Homo sapiens: one gene and its partners. The protein of the gene in region 4 interacts with the protein of the main gene of each other region in a pairwise test. Each region holds a gene or a part of one and is shown on either strand. Other genes may lie near its edges.

Region 1 (7,459 bases), on a different chromosome or scaffold from region 4:
AAGAGAAGGTTGGGGGTTTTATGAAAAAGAGAAATGTTACCTATTGCTTGTTGAGAAAGCTCTCTGGCACTAGTAAGGTTCTGGGGAGCTGGCAAGCTCCAAATGGTGAGCAACGGCAGTGGCCAAAATTAATCCTAAAGTTGCAGCAAGCCATCTCAGCAGTCTTAGATAAAACTGGTTTCAGGCTGGGTGCAGTGGCTTACGCCTGTAATCCCAGTACTCTGGGAGGCTGAGGTGGGCAGATCACTTGAGGTCAGGAGTTCGAGACCAGCCTGGCCAACATGGTGAAACCACATCTCTACTAAAAATACAAAAATTAGCTGGACGTGGTGGCGCATGCCTGTAATGCCAGCTACTCTAGAGTCTGAGGCAGGAGAATCATTCGAACCCGGGAGGCGGAGGTTGCAGTGATCCAAGACTGCGCCACTGCACTCCAGCCTGGGCAACAGAGCAAGACTCCATCTCAAAGAAAAAAAAAAGCATCCTACTGATTCTAGAGATCTTTTTAAAAATATAGCAACCAGTCATCTCATGCTTTTTCAATCTTAGATTCTGTTCCTTCTCTTCTAATAAATTTTCATTATTTATTGCTTAAAATAGCTTTTCACTGGTTTGTCCAAGATAAGCATTAATTCCCTCAGTCTCTTTTCTCTCTTCCCCACCCCAGTTGTTTTTGATCTATGTTTCTAATATCCCTATGAATTACTTGGGATGACAATTTAAGAATATTGTAAGACAACACTTTTTTTTTTTTTTTTGAGATGGAGTTTCGCTCTTGTCGCCCAGGCTGGAGTGCGATGGCGCGATCTCTGCTCACGGCAACCTCCGCCTCCCAAGTTCAAGCAATTCTGCCTCAGCCTCCCAAGTAGCTGGGATTACAGGCATGTGCCACCACGCCTGGCTAATTTTTGTATTTTTAGCAGAGACGGGGTTTCTCCATGTTGGTCAGGCTGGTCTCGAACTCCCGACCTCAGGTGATCCACCCGCCTCAGCTTCCCAAAGTGCTGGGATTACAGGCGTGAGCCACCGCGCCTGGCTGTACTAAGCCACTTTCAAAGAATAAATAAATTTTGGTTCCAATTACATTTCCTCTACGGTTTATTTTACATATTAACTCCAAGAATTAAATATTTTCATATTACAATAGTAAGAAAGTGCTGATGTTACTTTAATAAGTCATTAAATTATTATAAACAACTTTTTTTTTTGTTTTTGAGACAGGGTCTCACTCTGCACCCAGATGCTGGAGTGCAGTGGCACAATCATGGCTCACTGCAGCTTTGACCTCCTGGGCTCAAGTGATCCTCCCACCTCGGCCTCCTGAGTAGCTGGGACTACAGGCATGCACCACTTCTGGCTAATTTTTAAAATTTTTTGTAGAGACTGGGTCCCACTATGTTACCTAGGCTGGAAGAATTTTTTCCTATTTATTTAGTTAGTTTTTGAGACGGAGTTTCGCCCTTGTTGCCCAGTCTGGGGTGCAATGGTGCAATCTCGGCTCACCGCAACCCCACCTCCCAGGTACAAGTGATTCTCCTGCCTCAGCCTCCCGAGTATCTGGAATTACAGGCATGCGCCACCACGCCCGGCTACTTTTGTACTTTTAGTAGGGACGGGGTTTCGCCATGTTGGTCAAGCTGGTCTCAAACTCCTGACCTCAGGTGATCTGCCCGTCTCGGCCTTCCAAAGTGCTGGGATTACAAGTGTGAGCCACCGCACCGGGCCAGAATTTTTTTTTTAGTGTACCACTGTGCTGATTGGGAATTAACAATGACAGGCAAAATTTACAAGCTTTTATTAATTAATGTGCCAGGTGCAATTCTAAGTGTCATATGTGTGATAATTTATTTAATTCTTTTTTTGCTTGTTTTTTGTTTTTCTTTTTTTGAGATACAGTCTTGCTGTGTTGCCCAGACTGGAGTGCAGTGATGCAGTCTCGGCTCACTGCAACCTCCACCTCCTGGGTTCAAGTGATTCTCCTGCCTCAGCCTCCCAAATAGCTGGGATTACAGGCGTGGGCCATTGTGCCCGGCCAATTCATTTAATTCTCAAAAAAAAAAAATCTTAAGTATTTGTTACATTTTTTAAATGATAAAAGTGAGGCTGAGTTTAAGTAACTTATCTGTTAAGATGATCACACAGCTACTAGTAATAAAGTACGATTCAAAGGCAGGCTATCTGGCCCCTTTGTGTAGACTTGGTCATAATGCTGTGACTTTGTATTAGCCGGGAGTCCTGAATTATCAAAAGATTTACAATAAATGACACTATCTTGTTGAACAATGAAGACTTTTTTTTCCTAAATTTTCGACAACCCTCGAAATCATGGCAGCATACTGAGGTGAGCGTTTTCATTGGGACATGAACCTGTCATTCCTGCCACTATCAGGAAAAAGAAATGTTACCCAATTTTAATCTTTGAACAGTATCAATGCCAAAAAATTGTGAAAAAGATAATCAGAAAATAGATGACAAGTGGCTACTGAGCTTACCATTTAAAGTTTCTGTCAGACCTTCAAATTTTCTCTATGGAGCCCTTCTCCACGAACTCAGGGTAGTCAGTGCTTGTAATTTACAGCAGTCATTAAAATGATGACATTACATGTAATTCACTTATTTCCAAAGAGTAACTGAGGACCTAAAAAATGTAGGTGATATTAGGCATATCCATGACATACAGCACTATGCAATATGCAAAGGCTTACACAGAACTCTCATCAATCCGTGAACATGCTTTTGTCTTAGATCAAGCTTGTCCAACCTGCAGCCCTTGGGGGTTGCATGCGGCCCAGGACGGCTTTGAATGCAGCCCAACACATATTTGTAAATTTTCTTAAAACGTTATGAGATTTTTTTGGCGTTTTGGTTTTTTCGTTTGTTTTAGCTCATCAGCTATTGTTACTGTTAGCGTATTTTATGTGTGGCCCAAGCCAATTCTTCCAATGTGGCCCCGGGAAGCCAAAAGATTGGCCACCCCTGCATTAGATGGTTAACGTCTGATTTTCATTGAATAAACCTGTGCCTTTACCATACCACAGAAGTAAAACGGGGCTCAATGTGTTTTTTAAAAATCACATTATCTGTATTTCCAGACATAAGGTAAGTATTTCACCAACTTTCATCCAAACTAACATCCTCAATTGTAATCCCACTAAGAACCGCCAGGGCGAGACGAAAGCGGAATCGCTTCCATCTTTACGTGGAGTCCGGGAAATGGTTCAGCACCATGACATCCGCCGAAGACGTAGGTGTAGACGAGGAACAAAAGAGAAGACCCCTCGTGGAGGTGGCCTGTGGGGCCCGCCCTCACCGGGCGCCATCTGTCCCTGATTCTGCTCCCCGCAGGGGCCGCAGCGGGTGCGCCCCGCGATAGAGCGGGCTGTGGAGGGAGCCTCCATGGAGTCTCCATCAACCATTCCGGACCAGGAGACGGTGGCAGGCAGTAAAAAGGCCTAGGCAGGGCCAGCGCCCCGGGCTGCTAGCACAGGACGGCGGCGCCCAGGGACGCCCCAGGGCAGGCCTCAGCCCCTCCAACCCGCGAGAGCCCAGCTCCAAGGGAGCCTGCAGCTCCCTCCATCTTGGTTGATGGAGGCGGGGAGCTGCGTCTGGGTGTCTCCACCGTCGCGCCCGACCAGTACTGCCCCGCGGACGCAGACGCCGGCAGCTGGGGCTGTTCCCTTGTCCGAATGGCAGAGCCCAGTCGGGGCTTCCGGGACAAGTCCTGGCCCCACGGGGTTTGGTTTTGAGGGGTCCCAAGTTCCCACAGTTGTCCCGACAAAATGGAGGACGTCGTCTCCTCCTGCTGCAGCCATGGCGGGAGGTGGGGGACTATTCCCCACGGGGCGCGGCGAGGGTGGAAGGGCCTCCACTGACCGCAGCGCACTCAAGACTCCAGTTCAACCGCGGCCCCGAAAGCTCACTTGGCCCCGCTCCAGCACCTCCCCGGCCTCGCCCCTCTTGGGGGCCTTCAAGGAACTGGACAGGGAGGGCGCTGGGGCATCCAGGCCGCCGCTCTCCTCGAGCAGAGGCGTTGGGAGCCGCTGCCGCAGCTTGGGCCCCCGGGCTCGGGCGAGGGCAGGCAGCCCCGCCGGAGTCTCCCGGGCTGTGTAGGTCCCGGAGAGCCCCGGGCCCCGAGGGGCCGAAGCGGGCCGCTACGACGGGCGGCGAATCTCGGGCTCCTGACCCTGGCGGACCCGGTAGCTGGGGGCGGGAGACCGGCGGGGAGACAACCCGACCGGGAGTTGAGGGCTGGCAGGCGGGAGTGGAACTGCAGGGCCGCGGGTGTGGCCCGCACCTGACGGACAGCTCTTCGGCCACCCCACCGAGGGGGCGCCCTGAAGGACGGCCGTCGGAGCCAATGGGCGTGCCCAAGGCGCCCAGGCTCGTCTCCCTCGCCAGCCAACGAGCGCACGGAGGGTGGGGCCTCCTCGGGCTCTGCTGCGCCGTCCCCTGCTTCTCCGCCTCCTCACCAGCGCGAAAAGCCGGGACTGGACCTCGCGGAGTTGTGCTTGTCGCCGAAGCGGGGTGGGCTTGTTCGTTCCGCGCAGCCGCAGCCAGAACCGGGTGACGCTTATCCCCGCTGTCTTTCCAGTCCAGGGCCGCTGAGAGTGGGGGTGGCTGGGAGCAGCGCAGCCTCCGGAGGAGGAGGCGGAGGCCGAGGTGAGTGGGGAGGCGGAGATGGGTGAGAGCAGCCTCCGGAGGCTCCCACCGACCCGGGATTAATACCCCGCGGCGCGGCCGCCGTCGCCGTTGCCGCTTCGGGGCCTCGAGGGCAGCTCGGGGCTGCCCTCCTGTCACCGGCGCTTTTGCGTCCGGCCTGAGGGGCTGGGAGAGTGCGAGCGAGGCCGGGAGGGTTGGGTGAGGCGGTCGCCAGCGGCGGAGGTCGCGGGGCCGGCGGGGAGGCGGGGTGGCGGGGCGGGTTGCCGGCCGCCCGGGGAGGTCGCGGGGCATTTTTCTTTCTCTCCTGCCGCATAGTGGCGGGGGGCGGGTTGGGCGAGGGAGGGGCGCCCCGGCCGGGTCTTCGCTGTCAGGACCGCGCTGCCACCCTGCCGCCGGAGCCGAGGTCCCCAGGTTTTTCGGGCGAGGGCTTCTGCCTCTGCCCCGCTGGGTCCCCTCCTTCGCTCATCTTTTCCCAGGCGCTGCGCGGCTTTTACTCTTTGCTGCTGATCTGGGCGAGTTTAATGGCGGATCTGGGGCCCTGTCGTCGACTGCTGGGGCCCCAGGGCAACTTCTTGAGGCAACTGTGGGCCCAGAGGTGATGCGCGCCGCCCGTTACCTCTGAAATGGTGCTTGGAGTGACAGAGATGACGCTGGGTGGGCAAATTTAGGAGGGAATACAAATCCCTTGCTGGCGTCGAGACGACGTTTACCCTTCCCTCTCCCGTCCTGGGAGCAGGCCTCGGATCCCCGAGCCCACTGCATCCCCAGTACTGCAGTTGGACGAAGCACTTTTAGCTTTGTCTCGTCGTTGCGGTTCCTATAGTTCTTTTTTTTCAACTTAGTTTCTCGGTAACATTAGGGTGGGGGAGGGTAGCAGAGCCCAGGAACTCCTTGGCCTCTTACCCCTTTGCCACCTCACGGTGTTGAGTTGGTTGTGCATCCAGATTGGTTGTACCGAAATTGGTTTTCAATTCTCATTCTAGGACCAGGAATCACCTTCAAGCCTATGTCGTGAGGCTTTGGCAGAAATTAAGAAGGAAATATCTCCATTGTGAGTTGTTTTTTTTTTTTTACCCCGCTTTGCTGTCTAATATAATTAGTGCAGTAGTAGGGTGTTCTTCCTGAGGGATTTGCCTTTGTGTTATCTTGAAGGCCTTGGCCTTCAAGCTAATTGCTTGGGTGCCCCTGTCCCCAGAGCCAAGCCATGGTAGTCCCTGGGAAGGCACGGGGAGTGCTGACATTTATACCACTGGAACTCTCTCAAGTTCCAGAACAAGATTTAAAGTTAGCTCTCTTTTAAGTGCCTTGAATTTAACAATTTTTTCTTTTCCAGTAGATTGGAAAAACTTTTTTACTGTTGGATTAAAAAGAAACACTACTGAATAATCTGTTGTTTTGACGTTGATATTTGCCTTGTATTTGAGGAAGACTGTTATTTATGTACCCTGACAGTCCTCCAGCTAGCATCACACGAGGAGATAACATAAACTAGTTGTCAAACTATTCCTAATTCTAAGATTGACCACCGAATCTGAGTGGCCTGATCTCTCTCTGTTAGGAAGTTAATGTTTGTTTTTGTTTTTTCGGGTTTTTTTTTTTTGCTACTAGACAGTGATCTATGTGTTCATTTTGGTACAGTACAAATGCCCTTTCTCTGTCAGCTATTCACTTAATGCTTTTAACACCAATCCTTGTGTGAATAATTTCATTAGGAGTGACAAAATGATTTTTTTTTCTTTAACAAGCTTTACTTCTATTTTTATTATCTGGGATTCAGTTCTTGCCAATTTTGTCCTTTCAACCCTGATCAAACAGTTTTCCATTGCTCATCAAAAACAAACTTGTGATTAGCTTATCTCCCATAGTAGTATTCCTGCCTTCCTTTTACCCTAGTTGCTTTCTACTAACTTATTTGCTCTTATTTTCTTACATTTCACAGCATATCTCTTTAATTAGTTAAACTTAGGACTGTGGCAGGATGTGGTAGGTAGGTAAAGTGGCTGGGCACAGTGGCTCATGCCTGTCATCCAACCACTTTGGGAGGCTGAGGTGGGTGGATAGCTTGAGAGCTTGAGCCCAGGAGTTCCAGTGTGGACAACATGGCAAAACTCTTTCTCTACAAAAAATACAAAAATTAGCTGAGCATGGTGGCACATGCCTGTAGTCCCAGCTACTCAGAAAGCTGAGGTGGGAGGATCGCTTGAGTTCAGGAGGTTGAAGCTGCAGTGAGCAGTGATCACACCACTATACTCCAGCCTGGGCAACAAAGAGAGAGTCTGTCTCAAAAAAAATGGGTAAAGTGGCTCTGGGCACTGTGACTCACTCCTGTAATCCCAGCACTCTGAGAGGCCAAGCTGGGAGGATTGTTTGAGCCCAGGGGGTTGAGTCTGCAGTGAACTGTGTTTGTGCCATAGCATTCCAGGCTGGGCGACAGAGCCATACCCTGTCTTAAGAAAAAAAAAAAAGCCTGGTCCATAAGGTTTGAGACACACACACACACACACACACACACACGTGCGCATATACATGCATATAGTTAGTGGGAGATACAATTCCCCCCCCCCCACCTGAGATATAATCCTTATCCTCTTTATTTTTTCCTTTATTTCTTGAGATTTTTCTCAGCTTTATCTTTCAATTCTTATTGCTGAATTTTTCCTTTTTGCCACTAAGCTTTTAATTTCCAGCAGTTCTTTTTATATTAGAAGTGTTGGCTGGGCATGGTGGCTCACACCTGTAATCCCAGCACTTTGGGAGGCCGAGGTGGGTGGATCACCTGAGGTCAGAAGTTCGAGACTAG
Region 2 (7,140 bases), on a different chromosome or scaffold from region 4:
TTTTTAATATACTTAAGCATGAAGCTGGTTAAGTATGGAGCTAAATTTCACATACATGCATGCATTGCTTCACACCGTTTACTGTTTTGCATGGATAGTGCTGGCACTGGAGTACTTATTGGTCATGTGCCTAGAGTGAATTTCTTGATTGTACAGGATGTATGATGATATTGGTGGACTTAAGGATATTGAATGGTGTATCAGGAATAAAATATTCATTATATGGGTGTTTGGGGGCCCTGAGTAACACTGTAGCCTCCAGGGTAGATTGAGTAGGAAAAATTTAGGGTGGGGTTCCTGTTTGTTTTTGCTTCTAATTTTCATTTGTTTGCTGTTTATTCTCCTCCAGGCTTTGCTTGTGGTCGCATAAATAGAAAACCATTTTTTTGTTTGTTGTTTTAGTTTCTAGTGGAAGGCTTTTATTTGGTTCTGTGAATAGTTATTTTATTTTCTATGCATTTCTACCAAGTCATCATTTGTTCCATTTATCTGGAATTCCTAGGCTACCTTTGTTGAGCTCACAGGAATTGGTGGAGCACACTAAGCTTTTTAACCTTAAACTAACTTTTTGGATATTAGGCTTCCTGATACTTTAAGTATATTGAGTATACTTTTGTAAATAGAACTTGAGTCATATTTCTCTCTCTCTGCCTAATTTCTTCAAAATTTGTAAATTGTTTGTGAATATTCTTAATTCATAGCAATGTGTTTGTTTGCATACAGTTGAGCAGGGTCACTAGGGCTGCTCATGGAGAGAGAACTCAAGAAAGCTGACATGCCGGCAAAAGGGTAAGAATTTCTTACCAGTTGGACTTCTGGCCCCTCTTTGTGCAAACTGGTTGAATGAATGGTAAAATATAATGAGAAGGCATGAGAATGTTAATTTTTATAAACATTTAACAAGCTTCCCAAAATCAAATTGCAGCTTCAAAATTGTCTTTTCTGACCTCAAACTTTGAGATGCTACAGCAGGCCCGTGAACCATCCAAAAGAGAGGTAAACAGGATTATTTGATATGTTTAGTTACATGGGAAGCATTGTGAAAATAAAAAATAATGTTTAATCATCTTCAGGTTATATATTAGTGAATGATATTAATATATGTTCCAGAATTGTATGGAATTTCTAAAATTCTAATATGTCTGAGTATATGCTATCAATCATAATTATTGTGTTATTGTAGACCACAGAAATAACCAAATCTCCTTGTCAATAGTGTTTTTAACTATCACTATTTAAAGTCATTTGAACTCCATGGTCTAAGTCAAATCAGCTATGAAAACCCATTAGTTATCAGTGCTATGCACCTAAATTGGAGAAACAACTGGTATTCAAGAGGACATAAGTCCAGTGTTAAGCATGGACTCATGGAAAACCAAGATGGCCACCTTGTTCTTCCTGAGTCCTTAAAGCTTTTGTTATTAAAGTTTCTGCATTCCGTGACTCATCATGGAAAAGATAAAATGATCCAGATTAAATATATACTGGTTTGCTGACTTATAAATTGCTAAAATAGTTTATAACCAATGTTTGGTTTACAATCAAAGCTTCAGGTACATTTGGCTACCTGATGGGCCATTTAAACATTTAAATTGTCATTTTATTTATTTATTTTTTTTTTTTTGAGATGGAGACTCGCCTGTTGCCAGGCTGGAGTGCAGTGGTGCAAGCTCAGCTCACTGCAACCTCCACCTCCCAGGTTCAAGTGATTCTCCTGCCTCAGCCTCCTGAGTAGCTGGGATTACAGGCATGTGCCACCACGCCGGGCTAATTTTTGTATTTTTATTAGAGACAGGGTTTCACCATGTTGATCAGGCTGGTCTCAAACTCCTGACCTTGTGATCTGCCCACAATGGCCTCCCAAAGTGCGGGGATTACAGGTGTGAGCCACTGCACCCAACCATCATCCTTCATTTACATAGGGCATACACCAGGTAACCAATGCAAACCTCTAGAGGGTATTGAAATCCCAGAAAATTCTGTAACTGGTCCCTTGAGCCACTTGCTCAGGCCTGCTCCCACCCTGTGGAGTGTGCTTTCATTTTCAATAAATCTCTGCTTTTGCTACTTCATTCTTTCCTTGCTTTGTTTTGCATTTTCAATTCTTTGGTCAAAACGCCAAGAACCTGGACACCGTCCACCCATAACAGTTTCGCTAGTTGCATGTGATTGTAAGACAAATAAAAATGATGTTGTGGGCTGGGTGCGGTGGCTCACGCCTGTAATCCCAGCACTTTGGGAGGCCGAGGCGGGTGGATCACAGGGTCAGGAGATCAAGACCATCCTGGCTAACACGGTGAAACGCCATCTCTACCAAAAATACAAAGAATTAGCCAGGCGTGGTGGCGGGCGCTTGTAGTCCCAGCTACTCGGGAGGCTGAGGCAGGAGAATGGTGTGAACCCGGGAGGCGGACTTGCAGTGAGCTGAGATCGCGCCACTGCATTCCAGCCTGGTCGACAGAGCCAGACTCCGTCTCAAAAAATAAAAATTAAAAAAAAAAAAAGATGTTGAGGCAGGAGTATAGGGCCTGAAGGCAGGGAACCTAAAGACTTTCTAGAACTAAATCAAATGGAAACACTTCAGCTATGACAGGAAATATTCTCTTCATTTACATAGGGTGTACACTGAGTAAATGACTTCGTAACTTCACTTCGTCCTCTTCATTTACATAGGGCGTACACCCAGTAACCAATGGGAAACCTCTAGAGGGTATTGAAACCCCAGAAAATTCTGTAACAAGGTCCCTTGGGCCTCTTTCTTGGGCCCACTCCCACCGTGTGGAGTGTCTTTTCGTTTTCAATAAATATTCGCTTCTGTTGCTTTGTTTTTCCCTTGCTTTGTGTGTTTCGTCCAATTCTTTGTTCAAAACGCCAAGAACCTGGACAACTTGCAGTCCAGACCCTCCTCTAGTAACAATGTTATATAAGTATTTGGTTGATGTTAGAGTAATCACTGGATGGGTTCTTCCTGCCTGCTGCACAAACAAAATCAATTCAGGAAGACCACAGCATTGCAGTAAGGAAAGAGTTTAATTGATGTGAGGCTGGCCACGCCACATGGGACATGGAGTTATTACTCAAATCAATCTCATCGAAGGCTAGTAGGTTAGGGGTTTTTCAAAGGTGGTTTGGTGGGCAGGGGCTAGGGTATGGAAAATGCTGACTGGTTGGGTTGGAGATGAAATCATAGGGGTTGAAGCTATCCTCTTGTACTGAGTTGCTTGTGGGTGGGGCCACAGGAGCTGTTGACTGGTCCAGGTGGAGCCATCAGTGTCAGGCAAACGTGAAAAAATATCTCAAAAGGCCAAACTTAGGTTCTACAATAGTAATGTTACCTGCAGGAGTAAATGGGGAAGTTGTCTATCTGGTGGCTTCCGGAATAATGGCTGGCAATGGTCTATGTTTACACCTTAGCAGAGAGAATTCACACTCCTCTGTCCTCCTAGCCTGGTGGTCTCTCGGTTAGCTTTACAAAGGCAGTTGAGTTTTGGGGAAGGGCTATTATCATTTAAACTATAAACCAAATGTCTCCCAAAGTTAACTTGGCCTAAGCTCAGGAATAATTAAGGGCAGCTAAAGGCAAGATGGGGTTGGTTAAATCAGATCTCTTTGACTGCCATAATTTTCTCACTGTTAGAATTTTTGCAAAGGCTGTTTCATTAGTACCCTACTCATTTAGGTGAAATGAACAATGTGTATTTTATGTGTTCCAGATGTGTATCAATATCACATAACTGTCAGGGAGGGCCCCAGGTATCTGTCCCTGTTCAGAAAGATCATGAAGATGAATACCGCGATGAGGACAGCTTGCCCGTCTCAGCGAACTCAGAACTTGTCCTCAGTAGCCAGCCCCTATGGGCCAAGGGGTTACAAACTTCGACTTGCCGGCAATTACAGCTGTTTTCCATCATTCTCCTTGCTGTACCTTCTGGTGGGAGCAGCATGGGAGTTAATAAAGGGAAAGCGACAAGCGTCTGTAGAGCGCCGGGTGGGGTCTCGGGAGAGGAGGGCTGGGTGGGAAGAGGCGCGGCGGGAGGCGGCGCCCCGGCTCGCATTGGCCCAGCCGGCGTCCCTCCTCTGGAGGAGGCCGGGCGCGCCCGGAAAAGTGGTTTGCCTGACGGCGAGAGGCAGAGGTGCCCTCGGTGATAGAGGAAACATGGCCGAGTATACGCGGCTGCACAACGCCTTGGCGCTAATCCGCCTCCGAAACCCGCCGGTCAACGCGATCAGGTAACGGGCTCGGTCGCCTCCAGCCCGGGGACCGTGCGGGCCTTAGCCGCCCTCTGGCTCCGGAGGCTTTGACTCTCCCCCGTCGGTTTAAACCGAGAAGGACACTCAAGAGTTGAGCAACTGGTACATGCCAGGAACTTTTTTTTTCTTTTCTTTCTTTCTTTTTCTTTTCTTTTTTTTTTTTTTTAACCTAGATTAGCTTGGTTAATCTTCGCAGGGAACTCTCGTCCCCGTTTTACTGATAAGGAAACTGAGGCTGAGGCTGAGACAGATCAACACTTAGGGAGTTGGCCTCGACCTGTCCTTCATGCGGAGCCCTCCTGCTTACTTGCAACTTTGGCTTTGCAGGCCGACTTTTTATTTTTCTTTTTTTTTTTTAATTATACTTTAAGTTTTAGGGTACATGTGCACAACGTGCAGGTTAGTTACATATGTATACATGTGCCATGTTGGTGTGCTGCACCCATTAACTCGTCATTTAATATTAGGTATATCTCCTAATGCTATCCCTCCCCCCTCCCCCCACCCCACAACAGGTCCCAGTGTGCAGGCCGACTTTCTAATCCAAAGGTCTTAACTTAGTTTGATGTTGGACTTTGATCCAGCCTCACTCCCCTTCTTTGAGTCCAGGCTGTCCTTACAATGTTTGGCTAAAGGCTTTAGGAATAGGGCAATCACTGGCATTAGTGGGACTTTTTTTTTTTTTTTTTTTAATGTTAAAAGTCCCACTAATGCCAGCTCAGTGATTAAAGCAGAATTTTGCCCTGGCCCGGAAACGCAAAATTATTTCTCCTGATTTGTTTAAACCTCAGGACTTTGGTGCTTCCAAGGAAGACTCACATCAGACTAAGCCTATGCAATAGCATTTTCTGAAAAATTGCACCTTATCTTCTTTTTCTCACTGGGGAGTATTTGCCTTGTGTGGTGCACTTTAAACATTAAAAAGTGAGATCAATGTTGCCTTTTTGAAAAGTAATGATTATTTGGTTTGGTCCTTCTACATCTCTTAAAAAAATAATTATATGTCAGCCTTGAAAAAGAATTACCTATCCACAGGGAATAAGATTAGTGGAAATTATAATTTATCAAGAATATATAAAGCATAGAGAGAAAGGTCTTTGGTCAAAATTCTTATAACATGCTGCTGAAGCAAAGAGACTGAAATGAGAAGACCTGCTAATTTTAATAGAATTTAAAAATCCTACTGTCATTGGATTTGATTTATCATTAGTATTAATATTAATTCATTATGAATTATTGCATTTAATAATGTCAAAAAATGCAGGACTAAAATCACATAAGGATGACATGTCTACTAACTTGCCATTCCCAGAATAAAAAGCAAAATATCTGTTATATTGGTTTTGACAAAGAAAAATGTAAGTAATATGATTACATGTCAATTTTGGACTGGTCTATATACTGATTAGAATTGCTAGATATTAGGACCTTAGGGGGAAAAGTTCCATACTCTAATACCCATGACTAGGAATATTTTCTGACAACTGTTTTTTTTTTTTCTTTTTTTTTTAAGCTCATTTGCTTGTTTTGAGACGGAGTCTTGCTCTGTCGCCAGGCTGGAGTGCAGTGGCGTGATCTCAGCTCACTGCAACCTCTGCCTCCCGGGTTCAAGTGATTCCCCTGCCTCAGCCTCCCGAGTAGCTGGGACTACAGGTGCGTGCCACCACGCCCAGCTAATTTTTTGTATTTTAGTAGAGACGGGGTTTCACCATGTTGGCCAGGATGGTCTCAATCTCCTGACCTCGTGATCCACCTGCCTCGGCCTCCCAAAGTGCTGGGATTACAGGCATGAGCCACGTGCCCAGCCTCTGACAATTGCTTTTAATATTTCTGGAATTTAACCTGCTCTCCTTGCCCACCCATGCAACCACCTGTGCCACCCCCATCCTCTTTGCAGGAGAAATGTTAGGGCCTACCTCATAAAGTTGTGAAGTTTAAATCAGCTGGAAATTATGAAGTGGCATTTAATAGATGTTAGTTATTCCTATTAGTCAGAAGACCTGTTCAAGCCCCAAAAACAGGCCCTGCTACTCAGGACCCACTTCAGTTTCATCAAGAAGATATTCTCCACTTGGGAATAAGTACTTCTCTGCCCTTTTTTGTCTGTCTTCTGAACTTTTTTAGGTAGAAATGGACATCCTAGGAGTTCCTCAAGTTTAACAGATTCCTCAATTTTTTTCTTACACTTTTTCTTTCCTCCCTTTCTTCCTTTTCCCCTTCCTATTTCTAATTTTATATGGGAAGTCGTCTCCTCCTAGCTGATTGAGAGATTCTTACTTGAGTGTAATACACACACACACACACACACACACACACACATATAAATTTTTTCCCCAAAACAAATAGTTTAAATCCTTCATTGCTAGTTTAGCCAGCCATGTTTGCTTCCATTCAGATAAACACCAGCCCTCTTTATAAGTATAGGACATGCCTGATTAATAGGCCTGTCTCCCAGAACAATGGCTTTCACACGATTGCTTTACTGTAATCCACAGAGTAAGAAAGCTCACGTTTTTACGTAGCAATTCAAGACACACTTACATACAAACACGTAACCGAAAGCAGTTTCCTAAAACAAAACCTATCCTTACTTGGTATATTGTTTGATATAGTCTATTTTCTCATCTCTTCTTTTTCTTTGAAAAAATCCTGGTCACAAGCCACAAACTTGATTTGATGACTTTTGGTTTAAAAAAAAAAACTGTCTAAAAAAAAAAGGAAAGACCTTCTATAGTCAAAGAAGCTGAAGAGTTTTGGTCAGTAGTCATGAAATGCTGTCTCTACTCCAGACTCTATTTCTTCATGCCTGACAGTATTAACAGGAGAAAATAATTTCATAACTTCTGCGGCCTTTACATTGCTATGACTCTCTCTGTCAGCTTGAATCTA
Region 3 (7,019 bases), on a different chromosome or scaffold from region 4:
CCTAGCATCCAAGGTATGTACGTATGTAGAGTTGGAATACGCTTAACGCCTGTCATATGGAGATCTGCATATATGTAAATTTAAAAGTAGTAGCGATTGCTTAATATTGTGAAATGTTTTTCCGCCGCCGACGCCTAATTTCCGAATACCTGGATTGCTTGGAAGCGAGGCGCAGTCCTGCTGATCAGGGATCCTTGCTGCCTCTGTGACCCCGAAGGCCCGCTCCTTTCGGCGCAGGGCGGGAGCCCTTCTTGTGTGCGTCTGATTCTCTGGTCAAGGTCACCACGGGCCTCCAGGTGGCCCAATCCATGGACGCCTTCTCTTACGAGACCATGTGCTGAACTGGACGCTGCCAATCTCCTTTGCACTGTGCGGCACCCTAGGCCTGGGTGGGCGCTTCGCTGCAGGCTTTTCTCCCATCCCGTCTCCGCCTCCGAGCGCCCAAGGCTGACCCTGGAGCGTCACGTCGGCTGGCAGCAGGACCCACACCTTAGCTCCGTCTCTGGTTCCAGCAAGAACTGTTCTCCCAAGCTTCAGATCCACGCGTGTCTTGGGCAGTTTTTCCAGGTATCTCACAGCATCTAACGCCCAACCGTTCGAGACCTAAGTCATTGTTTTTTTCTTCCCTCCCCTCCCGCATCCTCAGCCTGTGATCTAGGTTGTGGAACTACCCAAATCTATCGCCGCTGCAAGCCTTGCATCCCGCTCCTTCACCTGCGTCTCCCTCTGGCTGCCGCCTCACCCGGCGCCGGCCGCCTCCTGTATGGACCAGGCCTGTGTCCTTCCAGCCCCTGTCTCCGACAGTCTTACTCCCCCTCATACTCCCTGTTTGCATCACTCCTGAAGGAACCCCCTGAAATATAAATCAGAGTGAGTCCCTCAGTCTCCCCAGGCCCCATCACCACAGGGTTTGGGAGGAGGCCAAAGATCCCACCAGGTTCATGTGTGTGTCGTGCTTCTCCGACTGTTGAACGCTTGCCGCCTTTGTGCCCGGAGCAGCTTGGGTCACTTGCCTGGAGGGGCATCCCAAACCTGACCTGGCCAGAGCGGCGACGGGTGGAAGGGGTGGAGAGGAGAGAAAGCAGGAATTGTAGCAAAAAGCTCCAGCGGGCGTTCCCTTGGCTTGCTAGAGGACAAAGAAGAGAAGCCTGTCCACTTCATCTCCACTTTAATGAAAAAGCCAGAATCCTTTAAGAATGTTTTCCAGTCCCAGTGAAGGTGGTAAAAAATAACCCTGAAATCACAGTCTGCAAAAGAATCCGAAATAATTTGTGCAAGACGAAATGTCAAACTTAAAACTCTTTGAACACCAGCTTTGAACACCAGTAACTCATGTGCTAGGATTGTACTAGCGACTCTGCCTATTTACAAACGTTGACCAACTTCTGCCCAGACCGCCCTCACAGACTATATAGCCCTCATAAGTCCCCGCTTTGATTTACGTCTGAGACAGAAGACGATGCTATCTTTTGCTCAGCGAGATTAAGCCAGCTTTCTATGATCAACAGACTTCTCTCGTGGTGTGGTGCGTATGCGGAGGAGACTTCGACAGCTTAAAAATACAAAACGGGGCCAGGCGCGGTGGCTCACGCCTGTCATCCCAGCACTTTGGGAGGCTGAGGCAGGAGGATCACGAGGTCAGGAGATCGAGACCGTCCTGCCAACATGGTGAAACCCCGTTTCTACTAAATACAAAAAATTAGCCGGGCGTGGTGGCGCGCCTGTAGTCTCAGCTATTCGGGAGGCTGAGGCAGGGGAATCACTTGAACCCGGGAGGCGGAGGTCGTAGTGAGCCGAGGTGGTGCCACTGCACTTCAGCCTGGAAACAGAGCAAGACTCCATCTTAAAAAAAAAAAAAAAAAAAGAAAGAAAGAAAGAGAAGAAAAAAAGAAAAAAGGCCTATATTTGCAGGACTAATTTCGAGGCCATCCTGGGCTCAAGCGATCCTCCCGCCTTGGCTTACCCAAAGTATTGGGATTACAGGCATAAGCCACCGCGGCGCATGGCCCGTTTTTATCTCTATTTATGTATGGGGGAAACGTGGAGGCTGGTATTTGTGGGGCAACATCTCACAAAAATAGACTCTTAAAGTCAAGAGCATAAAAAAGAATATACGGAAGACAAGTGTCTCATATGACACAAAGCATCTTTCTTGACAGGGAGTCGAAAGCAGGTCGTAGCGAGACAAAGGCGGAAGCCTAACCACTAAATCTCCCAGTAAAGTGGGAGTGAATCAGATAGGTTTTGACGCTCACGAACGCCTGGGGTCGTCCTGCGGTCTCACCCCAGTTTCGATAAACCACATTGTTCCCTCCAGCACAGCAAGTCTCACAGCAAGACGGGGGCAGGCCGTCTGGTAAACATAAAATGCCTAATATGTGCTGCCCGTGGGCGAGTGGCCTACAGCAAAGGGTCATGCATGCACGATAGCCCGCGGTGCTGGCCTGCAGGAATTGGTCCACAGGTACCCGCCTCTCATTCTTTCTTTGAGAGTTAGCGAGGGTGCAAACGTTGTGAGAATTCTGCTCGGGGCCTTCCACACACGGATCGGAGAACACCAGGTTAGTCCAAGTTCTAACACCCACTGTTGGTGAATCTGCTACCCACTAGGTCTTGGTACAGAGAATACCATTTGTGCACTTAGGTAACACAACTTGCCTTAACCTTTCCAAAAAGCGAAATTACGCCCAACGTGGGGCTCGAACCCACGACCCTGAGATTAAGAGTCTCATGCTCTACCGACTGAGCTAGCCGGGCGGCCATGTCTGTATTCTAACTTTGTCTCTGAAGATGGAGGTTACCCTCAGAGGTGTAAGCACGTTTCCACTGTGCAAATACTAAGAAGCGCCTGCGCCTGGCTCTGTTCTAGGCACTAGAGCCGAGGATCTGAAATCTACGGATTCCTGTACATGTGATGGCTGCATAGGCTTCAGAAGGGAAGAGCAAGAGATTAGGTGAGGGGCGAGACCTGAATTTACTTGAGTAGTGCTCTCCTTCAGTTTTGCCCCAGTCCGTGTTCCTCCGAAGCGCAGGGACACACATGTCCTTCCTGCCACGTAAGGCCGGCCTCGGGAGAGAATCTCCCGAACAGACCAAAACGTGTTTCCGCCCGGTTTCGAACCGGGGACCTTTCGCGTGTGAGGCGAACGTGATAACCACTACACTACGGAAACCACCTTGGCTACTTTCCTGCCGGCATCGTCCTGAAGACACACACGGCTGAGACGGCCGGGATAGCTCTAGGCAAGCGCCCTTGTAGGACAGGCCCGGGGACCCCTGCCGCGGCCGGCTGAGCGGTGTCCAGGTTCTGGAGCCGGACTTGTCCACCGCAGCCGAGTCCGCAGGTCCTGTAATGGCCTAGCATAGTTCACCCACGAGGGTTCGTGGTTTTTGGCGCGTTTGATCTGACATACTCAGAGGCCTGACCACCCCCCTAGGAAGCGCGACGTCCATCTGGAGTTTTCCCGCGAGCCGCCTTGAGAGCAGGGTAAGTTCTGCAGGCCCAGCCCTGGCGTCACGCTGTGTCTGGCACTCACTGGAGATTCTGTACATAAATCATGGCCCCGTCATTTTTCTCGCATCAAACAACATTTATTTATTTATGTATCGACATCAAATCTCTATAAAAATAAAATTTAAAGAGCTATTTAAGCATCAAGTATTATTTCTACCGCACAAAGCATCTATTTTTGCAGAGATGCTGTGAGAATGTAGATGTAATGATTCGTCACCACTTCTTCACTGCTGGGCAGTTAGGGAAGTTCATCTAAACCATGAGACAGTGTCCGGTTGGCAGTTTCTACCTCGGATGCGAAACGCCGACTACAGTTGGGGAAGGGTGGGGCGTCTGCTGCCCTAACCCGCGAAGCGCTTTCTCAGGCCCCGCCCCCGGTCCGACCCGGACGACCCTCTGAGTCCTCCACAACGAAGTCGTCTGCCTAGAAGGGCCGGAAGTACTTCAGGGCGCGCCGCGGACCCACCCCCTCGCTTCCGGCATCGGCTGTGGGGAGTACCGGCTGCAGTCGGCTGTGCCGGGAGGGTAGGATGGCGTCTGGCCGATGCGGTGATAGCACCGAAAGCAGACGGCCGCCAGGCGCTCCCCCTACCCCCCGAAGTTTCTCCCCAGCGGCGGGGGATGGGGGTAGGCGGTTCCTCTGTTCTTTCTGCGTTCCCCGCGGCCTCTTACCACAGAGACGCGGGCCTCCACCGTCCTAGCCCTCCCGCCCTGTTCTCTAGTGCGGACTAGAGCGTCTCCTCGCCATTTCCTGTCGCCCTGGGGCCCCGCGGGGAAAAAGGGGGAGTAGCAGGACAGCGGAGGGAAGTCGCGAGCTTAGGTGGTGTGTAGACGCCGGAAGTGTTGGGAAGGAGGCCGGAAGCTAGGGGCGGGGCCAGGAAGTGAGGAGGGGCGGGGGTTTATGAGGAGTCCAAGGGAGCATTGGGGCAGACTTGTACTCAGAGCCACCTGAGGGACTTGGCGGTGGCGCCCAGCACTGTCCCCTCCCCTCGTAGAGACACGGTTGTCGTTTGGGAGTAGGGAACACTGTGTTGGGGTGGGTTGTCGGCAGGACATCTCTCTGGCTGCTCTTGGGGCGAGGTGTGGAGGGGCAGGGCTGGGGGTGGAGCCGGGTCGCCAGGGCGTCGGTAGGGAAGACCCCCGCCCCTCGCCCCCCCACCGAACCTCTACACTGGCTGGCTGGACACTAAGATGGCTGCCGTTGCCATGACACCCAACCCTGTGCAGACCCTTCAGGAGGAGGCGGTGTGCGCCATCTGCCTCGATTACTTCACGGACCCCGTGTCCATCGGCTGCGGGCACAACTTCTGCCGAGTTTGTGTAACCCAGTTGTGGGGTGGGGAGGATGAGGAGGACAGAGATGAGTTAGATCGGGAGGAGGAGGAGGAGGACGGAGAGGAGGAGGAAGTGGAGGCTGTGGGGGCTGGCGCGGGGTGGGACACCCCCATGCGGGATGAAGACTACGAGGGTGACATGGAGGAGGAGGTCGAGGAGGAAGAAGAGGGTGTGTTCTGGACCAGTGGCATGAGCAGGTCCAGCTGGGACAACATGGACTATGTGTGGGAGGAGGAGGACGAGGAGGAAGACCTGGACTACTACTTGGGGGACATGGAGGAGGAGGACCTGAGGGGGGAGGATGAGGAGGACGAGGAGGAAGTGCTGGAGGAGGTTGAGGAAGAGGATCTAGACCCCGTCACCCCACTGCCCCCGCCTCCAGCCCCTCGGAGGTGCTTCACATGCCCTCAGTGCCGAAAGAGCTTTCCTCGGCGGAGCTTCCGCCCCAACCTGCAGCTGGCCAATATGGTCCAGGTGATTCGGCAGATGCACCCAACCCCTGGTCGAGGGAGCCGCGTGACCGATCAGGGCATCTGTCCCAAACACCAAGAAGCCCTGAAGCTCTTCTGCGAGGTAGACGAAGAGGCCATCTGTGTGGTGTGCCGAGAATCCAGGAGCCACAAACAGCACAGCGTGGTGCCATTGGAGGAGGTGGTGCAGGAGTACAAGGTGAGAGAAGTACAGAGAGAAGATGGGAGTTTAGTGGGGGGATGGAGAGGAAGTAAGGGGACCTGGGAAAAGGAAACATCTCTTCACCCACCAAAGAACCTCATGGTATTGGTGAGCCAAGTTTGCTTATCTAAGCACTTACTGCCACCAAGGTGGATTAGAATGAGAAGGATTCTGTACACAGAGCAGATGCAGTGAAGACGACCAGGGAAGGATGGCTTCCTCAAAGCAAATAGAGCAAAGCCGGTGATGCCAGATCAGGTCTCTAGGGCTTTACCAGAAGTCTCGTTTTCTTTCGGGTGAGTCTTAAGTCTGTCCTTGACGGAGACACCTAGAGATGGAAAGAACTGGGGGCTTCAAAGGACAAGAAAAGGCTCAGAAGCAGGAACACAGAGATAACTGCTAGTGTCAGTGTCAGACCCAAATGCTCTGCACTTGCCTCCCAGTGGGTTCCCCACCTACCACGATATGGCTTGGTTCTGTCTTCAAGGACTTTGGTTGGCTCTGTGTCATTCTTATGCACTGACTAGAAAGCAGGAGCTTTTCAGTCAGAAGACCTGGCTCTGCAAGTTGCATTGTCAAATCTTGATTAAGTCTGTGAGTGTCTTTGGACTTTAATTTGTCCAGGATTGATAGTTAATATTCACTGGACATTTATATGTATACCAGGCACTGTACTAGGCACTTTTCATGGACTGTCTCGTTAAAACCCAGACAACACTGAGTTTGATATGTTTTCCATTCCCATTTTATAGATTGGGAAACAAAGTCAGAGAGGCTTTAAGTACCATACAGAGGGCCACAGAGCTTCAGTAATAATTGACTTAGTTATTTACTGTCCCTTCCCCTGGTGTATACTAACAACGCCACCACCATTTGGATGTCTGTTGTTTGACTTTTCTGATGTGACTTTCTTGGAGTCTGATTCTAGTTTGACAAATACCTTGCCCCTACTTCTCATTTTGACTCTTCTTTGGACATAGGTAAAGGAGATTTGTTTGCAAGGCAGCCAGCACAAATAGCACTACTTAGTGAAGGCCTGGATGGGTTTGAAGCAGTGGGACCAGGAGGAGGAGGGGGTAGCCTCTGTGTGGTCTGCACAGAGCTTTTTTTGTTTTATAACTCATGTTTTCAGACCTTCTCCTGATTCCTGCTATAACTTCATTTAGGTATTATTTTCGTTACCCCAATTTTAGAGTAATGTGTCTAGGGTTTCTCAGCTCTGAGTGGTACAGCTAGACATACCTACATTACCTCATCACAAGTAACAATTTCTTTTACAGAGTGGCCTTTTTTTTTTTTAATTTTTTGAGACGGAGTCTCACTCTATTGCCCAGGCTGAAGTGCAGTAGCATGATCTCGGCTCACTGCAGCCTTCACCTCCCGGGTTCAAGTGATTCTCCTGCTTCAGCCTCCTGAGTATCTGGGATTACAGGCACTCGCCACCACAGCTGGCTGATTTTTGTATTTTTAGTAGAGATGGGGTTTCACCGTGTTGGCC
Region 4 (7,033 bases):
AATAGTTAAGTAATTTGCCCACTTCCACATAACAGTTCAAAAAAAAGAACTAGGCCGGGCGTGGTGTCTCACGCCTGTAATCCCAGCACTTTGGGAGGTGGGAGGCTGAGGCATGAGAATCACTTGAACCTGGGAGGCTGAGGTTGCGGTGAGCCGAGATCACACCACTGCACTCCAGCCTGGGCAACAGAGCGAGACTTGGTCTCAAAAAATGAAAAAAAATCAAAAGAAGAATTAAATCTATATTCATCAACATAAATTGCTTTCAAAAACAATGAGTGAAAAAAGTAAGTTGCAAAACAATATGTATAGTTTATGTATAAGAAACTTAATTACGTTATACTTTTGTGGCTAGACATATAGAAGTATTGTTTTTAAAATGCCAGGAGGGGCCGGGCACAGCGGTTCATGCCTATAATCCCAGCACATTGGGAGGCCGAGGCGGATGGATCACTTGAGGTCAGGAGTTCAAGAACAGCCTGGCCAACATGGTGAAACCCCATCTCTACTAAAAATGCAAAAATTATCCGGGCTTGGTGGTGCATGCCTGTAATCCTAGCTACTCAGGAGGCTGAGGCAGGAGAATTGCTTGAACTCGGAGGTGGAGGTTGCAGTGAGCCAAGATTGCACCACTGCACTCAAGCCTGGGCAACAGAGCAAGACTCCGTTTCAAAAAATAATAAATAAATATATAAATAAATAAACAAAATGCAAGGAGGGAGAGTCAGGAAGGATCAAACTTAAACTGAATACTGAGTGGTAGGCAGTTGAGAAGGGGAATTACATCTAAAATCTTCAAAAATTTTTCAAGAAGAATACATTCTGTATATATTACTTAAAAGTTGAAACAAAAGCTTGATAACTTGGAGAGTATCGTGTCATGAAAGTTACCTAAAAGAAGAACAAGATTAAGGTTTATAGAGAGAAAGGCTGTAGTATAATACAGCCTCTTTAGAAAAAGAACATACCATGTCAATGAGGGACAAAGATTTCCAAGTAGTTTTGAGTGGTAAGTTGAAAGATAAGGGCACTTTTATGAGACAGGTGAGGAAGCAAACTGATACCTAGCTTAAGAATTTATTATACAGATAGAAAAATTTTACTTGCCAGTAGTTATTAGAAGCATTTGAGAAAAGAAACTATTTTCTCACTGCCTGTAGTATAGCAATTTACATTGTCCCACCTGGAATATTCAGTAATTAGTCATTTTTTACTATCCTCATTTGAACAAAGGGAAAATTTCAAATTAGTTATAATTGTGGAAGGATTGTATAAATATAAATGAAGAGGAAGTGAGAATATTCCCATTACATTGATGTTTGAGAAATATCATTCAAAACTTGCTAATAGAAACTCAACAGTATTCAGATTTAATCTCAGTAACTGAGGCAATAGATAATAAAGACCTGAACTATGGCAATGATGTAAGAATGGAGGAGTGAGGAGTTGGTGATCATTCTGAGGAAAGAATCAACAAAATATGATGACTGTGTCTCTGATCTACCTGATCAGTTCTTTACTTTCCTTCAGTTACAAGAAGCTTGACTATAACCTAGAATTATCTGAGTGATTTTTATGATTATTTTGAGTAATTACTGCTATACTTAGAAGTTACCTACAGTTGGGGATTGTGAAATCAAATATATTCATAATTTTTATTGTCTGCTTTATTTGCAAATGGCATTAAGTTTCAGTCCACAAAGATAAATACACAAAAGATGGAAAATAATATAAAGTAAAATAGATGAGAAAGGTATAATAAGGATAAAGGCATAATATGCAATCAGGAATATGACTAATACATATATGCTTGCCATTTAAGTCTTCTAATTTCATGCAAATTTGGCTTGAAGTTATAACTTGTTTTTAAACATAAACCTTTTTTTGAAGCATAACAAAAACAAAAATATACAAGTCATAAGTGTGCAGCTCAATGAATTTTCTTGGCCTGTGTTTGTGATACTGAATGTAAGGAAGGAAATCTGAAGAGTTACACAATTTTTTTTTTTTTTTTTTTTGAGACGGAGTCTCGCTCTGTCGCCCAGGCTGGAGTGCAGTGGCACAATCTCAGCTCACTGCAAGCTCCACCTCCCGGGTTCACGCCATTCTCCTGCCTCAGCCTCCCGAGTAGCTAGGACTACAGGTGCCCGCCACCACTCCTGGCTAATTTTTTTTTTTGTAGTTTTAGTAGACACGGGGTTTCACCGTGGTCTCGATCTCCTGACCTCATGATCTGCCCACCTCGGCCTCCCAAAGTGCTGGGATTACAGGTGTGAGCCACCGCACCTAGCCGAGTTACACAATTATTATCCTTGAGATAAAACTGTACCAGCCAGGTGCAGTGGCTCACACCTGTAATCCCAACACTTTGGGAGGCTGAGGCAGACAGATTACCTGAGGTCAGGAGTTCAAGACCAGCCTGGCCAACATGGTGAAACTCCATCTCTACTAAAAATCCAAAAATTAGGCCTGGCGCAGTGGCTCATGCCTGTAATCCCACCACTTTGGGAGGCCGAAGCAGGTGAATCACCCGGGTCGGGAGTTCGAGACCAGCCTGACCAACATGAAGAAACCCCGTCTCTACTAAAAATACAAAATTAGCCAGGCGTGGTGGCGCCTGCCTGTAATCCCAGCTACTGGGGAGGCTGAGGCAGGAGAATCACTTGAATCCGGGAGGTGGAGGTTGCGGCAAGCCCATTGCACTTCAGCCTGGGTGACAAGAGTGAAACTCTGTCTCCAAAAAAAAAAAAAAAAAAAAATTAGCTGGGCATGGTGGCAGGCACCTGTAATCCCAGCTACTCAGGAGGCTGAGGCAGGAGAATCACTTGAACCCAGGAGGCAGAGGTTGCAGCAAGCCGAGATCACGCCATTGCACTCCAGCCTGGGCAACAAGAGTGAAACTACATCTCAAAACAAGAAAAAAAAAATTGTACCTAGATTAGTTGTTTCATACCTGGATTTTGGCATCATGCAGTGTAAACCACCAGTTCCAGATCTAACACTTAACACTTTCAACCTCCGTTGGGGTTTACAAGTTATTTATGTTTTCTAAGCTTAGTTTCGTCATATACAAAATGTGGGATAATGGTAATACTTACCTGTAGAAATTTTCACGATTAAATGGGTCAATTTATTTATTTATTTATTTATTTATTGTGATAGGATCTGGCTCTTTCACCCAGACGAGTGCAGTGGCATGATCATGGCTCACTGCAACGTCTGCCTCGTGGGCTCAAGCCATCCTCCCATTCAGCCTCCCAAGAAGCTGGGACTACAGGCGCATGACACCACGCCCAGCTAATTTTTGTATTTTTTGTAGAGACGGGGTTTCACCGTGTTGGCCAGGCTGATCTCAAAGTCCTGAGCTCAAGCAGTGTGCCCACTTCAGCCTCCCAAAGTGCTGGAATACAGGCATGAGCCACTGTGCTCGGCCTAAATGGGTCAATTTAGGTATAACATCTATACCTGAAATGTAGCAAGGAAGATTAGGTATCATTTCTCTTATTTTTAAATAAAATTAAGATGGTTCATAAGAAACTTTTTTTAACTATCAAAAAAAATTTTTTTTAAGTGTTTAAAACAGGTTCATGCCTGTAATCCTAGCACTTTGGGAGGCCTTGTGGGAAGACTGCTTGAACCCAGGAGTTTTAGGTTACAGCGAGATTTGATTGCGCCACTACACTCCAGCCTAGGCAACACAGCGAGACCCTGCCTCTACAAAAAATAAAAACATTAGCTAGGTGTGGTGGTGTGCACCTGTAGTCCTGGCTACTCAGGAGGCTGAGGCAGGACGATTGTTTGAGCCTTGGTGCCAAGGCAGCAGTGAGCTATGATTACGCCACTGCATTCTAGCCTGGGTGACAGATGACAGAGTGAGACCTTGTCTCAAAAAAAAAAAAAAAAAAGAAAGTTGAAATTTGGTTTTATATTGCCAAAACTATTTTGGTAACAAACCCTAGAAAGAAAGCTTTCCCTAGGCACTCAAAAGAAGATATCATAATGAAGAGCATCTGTACCATAGCCTAGTAATAATTTCATGGGGGAACATTAAGAACTCATTATTCTTCTGTTTTTTGTCAAATGAGCTGTATAAAGTATAACAAACCATTGGTCATTGCCCTCAAATAACTAACAGTCTATTGGAAAGAGAAACTAGTGAAAGGAAACAATTAAGGGATAAGATGTGTGGCCTGGAAATAAGAATTTATCAGAGAGAGACAATAGAGTGGGCTGACACATCCTAGGGAAAACATCCTTTAAGAAACCAATAAATTTTGCTCACATTCTTAGACTACAGCAGACAGATCAAAGCAAACACTTCCCTGAACTATCTGGTTGGCTGCTGTTGTTGATAATTTTCTTGAGAACTGATGGATAGGAAGCACAGTCATGCATCACTTAACAACTGTGATGTGTTTTGAGAAATGCGTCGTTAGGTGATTTCATCATTTTGTGAATATCACGGAGTATACTTAATGCAAACCTAGATGGTATAGCCTACTACACACCTGGGTTGTATGACACAGCCTGTTGCTCCTTGGTTATAAACCTGTACCACATGTTACTATACTGAATACTGTAGGCAATTGTAACACAATGGTGTTTGTGTATCTAAATATAGAAGAGGTACAGTAAAAATATGGTATTATATTCTATGGGACCATCATTGTATATGCAGTTCATTGTTGAACAAAACACTGTCATATGACACATGACTAAATGAAACTACACTCCAGCTCTTCATCTTTAGAGCAAGGAACAATTGTCTCTGAGGATAGTTGTCTAAAGCATTGTGAGTACTGTCATAATATAGGTAGAACCAATGAATGCTTATTTTGGGGTGTGAGGAGGGAAATACTGATCTGAGGGTTTCATAGGCACCTTCAAAACCAGCTAAATGCTAAAAAAGAATGCCACTTTTGTTTGGCCACTTGAAACAGTCATTTTTACAACTCTGGTTACAAATTGGAACATTCATCACTCCAAATCCAAAATGAGTATTTTAAGCTACTGCAGTTGCTAAAAGTGACCAATGATAATAGTTTTGCTGCTTTAAATTACTGACATTTTCCCTGTATATCTTCTACATTTTCCCTTCATGTTTGATACTCACTGTCTTTTCTCTGATGTTTCATTTGCTTGTCTACATCGCTCCTCTCTCAATGCAGTTTTTGTATTTATTGTGATTATCGGTACATTCAAAATGTCATACAAGGGGAAAGATTATGCTTTGTTTGTGTTTTTATTAATATACTTATTACTTCTTCTTATATTGGTGCCACACCAGTTCCCCCTCCTAAATTTCACCTCTCTTTCTTTTTTTTTTTTCTTTTTTTTTTTTGAGATGGAGTCTTGCTCTGTTGCCTAGGCTGGAGTGCAGAGGCGCAATCTCGGCTCACTGCAACCTCCACCTCCCGGGTTCAAACAATTATCCTGCCTCAGCCTCCCGAGTAGCTGAAACTATAGGCGCCCGCCACCATGCCGGGTAATTTTTTGTGTTTTTAGTAGAGATGGGGTTTCACTGTGTTAGCCAGGATGGTCTGGATCTCCTGACCTCGTGATCCACCAGCCTTGGCCTCCCAAAGTGCTCACAGGTGTGAGCCACTGTGCCTGGCCGGTCACCTTCTTTCAATGCCATTCTCATTCAAATGAACTCCTAAATGTAGAATCTTTACACATTCCTTTTATTCATTCTCTATATCCAGTCAGTTACCAAGTTCTTTGAAATATCTTTTGTTATTTTTCCTTTCGTCTTATTCCCATTTTTATTTCTTTCTAGGCCATCATGGCCTCAGACCTGCAATGCTTCTGCAGACACTAAGCTGGTCTTCCTAACAACAGTTCTTCCTTACCACTGTCAAACTAATCTGATAGGTTCAACTAATGCAAACTGAGCACTTGCTGTGTATTTAGTGCAGTCTTAGGCGATGGGAATACACACTGATTTGAACAGAAGAGGGTTTGGCCAGTAATGGGACAAGCAATGTAGCTGCAATAAGTATAATATAATTCAAAGCAAAAGTAAAGAATATTTTGTCTTAGAAGATGCAAGTTCCCAGCATTAGATGGAGATACTTCCCCCTAATACCATGAAACTTGGAGTTTGGATGGGAAGGAATAAGTATTTAATAAAGTGTGTTGAGTGTTACAGTAGAAGTATGCAATGGGCCCAGAAGAGACAATTCTACTCTATTAAGCGGTCAGGGAAGGGCCTCTCAGAGAAAATAAAGGAGTCACAATTGTTTAGAAAGTGGTGTTTTTGTTTGTTTTATTTTACTTTGTTTTTTTAGACAGAGCCTCATTCTGTCACCCAGGCTGGAGTGCAATGGCACAATCTCGGCTCGCTGAAACCTTCACCTCCCAGGTTCAAGTGATTCTCCAGCCTTGGCCTCCTGAGTAGCTGGGACTACAGGCACGTGCCACCACACCTGGGTAATTTTTGTATTTTTCATAGGGACAGGGTTTCACTATGTTGGCCAGGCTAGTCTCGAACTCCTGACCTCGTGATCCACCCACCTCAGCCTCCCAAAGTGCTGGGATAACAGGCATGAGCCACCATGCCTGGCTTGTTTTTTGTTTTGGTTTTTGTTTTTGTGATGGAGTTTTGCTCTTGTTGCCCAGGCTGGAGTGCAGTGGTGCAATCTTGACTCACCACAACCTCTGCCTCCCGGGTTCAAGTGATTCTCCAGCCTTAGCCTCCTGAGTAGCTGGGACTACAGGCATGTGCCACTACGCCCAGCTAATTTTGTATTTTTAGTAGAGATGGGGTTTCTCCAAGTTGGTCAGGCTGGTCTTGAACTCCCGACCTCAGGTGATCCGCCTGCCTTGGCCTCCAGAAGTGCTGGGATTACAGGCGTGAGCCACCATGCCCAGCCTAGAAAGTAGTGTTTTAAACTAAGGAAACAAGTATCATTAGGTCTGGAGCCAAGAGAGAGCTGTTATGTATCAGGCATTAAGGAATAAGAATAAAACCTGGACTCTGCCATCAGGAGCTGATATCCATTGTTACAGAAGTTAAGATGATAAAGATTGG

Evidence for each region.
Region 1: the proteins of ZBTB26 (region 4) and ZMYM5 interact in binary tests that used the Homo sapiens proteins (3 or more experiments, as listed by UniProt).
Region 2: the proteins of ZBTB26 (region 4) and EHHADH interact in binary tests that used the Homo sapiens proteins (3 or more experiments, as listed by UniProt).
Region 3: the proteins of ZBTB26 (region 4) and TRIM41 interact in binary tests that used the Homo sapiens proteins (3 or more experiments, as listed by UniProt).

The regions. Positions count from the first base shown.
Region 1 is NC_000013.11:19,860,650-19,868,108, reverse strand, and holds the start of ZMYM5 (zinc finger MYM-type protein 5), read left to right. Parts: upstream 1-4,459; 5' UTR 4,460-4,659; intron 4,660-4,739; exon of another isoform or gene 4,740-5,282; coding exon of another isoform or gene 5,283-5,285; intron 5,286-5,642; coding exon of another isoform or gene 5,643-5,710; intron 5,711-7,459. UniProt on the Homo sapiens protein: Functions as a transcriptional regulator.
Region 2 is NC_000003.12:185,251,039-185,258,178, reverse strand, and holds the start of EHHADH (peroxisomal bifunctional enzyme), read left to right. Parts: upstream 1-4,129; 5' UTR 4,130-4,156; coding exon 4,157-4,230; exon of another isoform or gene 4,231-4,353; intron 4,354-4,906; exon of another isoform or gene 4,907-4,969; intron 4,970-7,140. UniProt on the Homo sapiens protein: Peroxisomal trifunctional enzyme possessing 2-enoyl-CoA hydratase, 3-hydroxyacyl-CoA dehydrogenase, and delta 3, delta 2-enoyl-CoA isomerase activities. Catalyzes two of the four reactions of the long chain fatty acids peroxisomal beta-oxidation pathway.
Region 3 is NC_000005.10:181,219,295-181,226,313, forward strand, and holds the start of TRIM41 (E3 ubiquitin-protein ligase TRIM41), read left to right. Parts: upstream 1-3,986; 5' UTR 3,987-4,705; coding exon 4,706-5,518; intron 5,519-7,019.
Region 4 is NC_000009.12:122,921,492-122,928,524, reverse strand, and holds part of ZBTB26 (zinc finger and BTB domain-containing protein 26), read left to right. Parts: intron 1-7,033. UniProt on the Homo sapiens protein: May be involved in transcriptional regulation.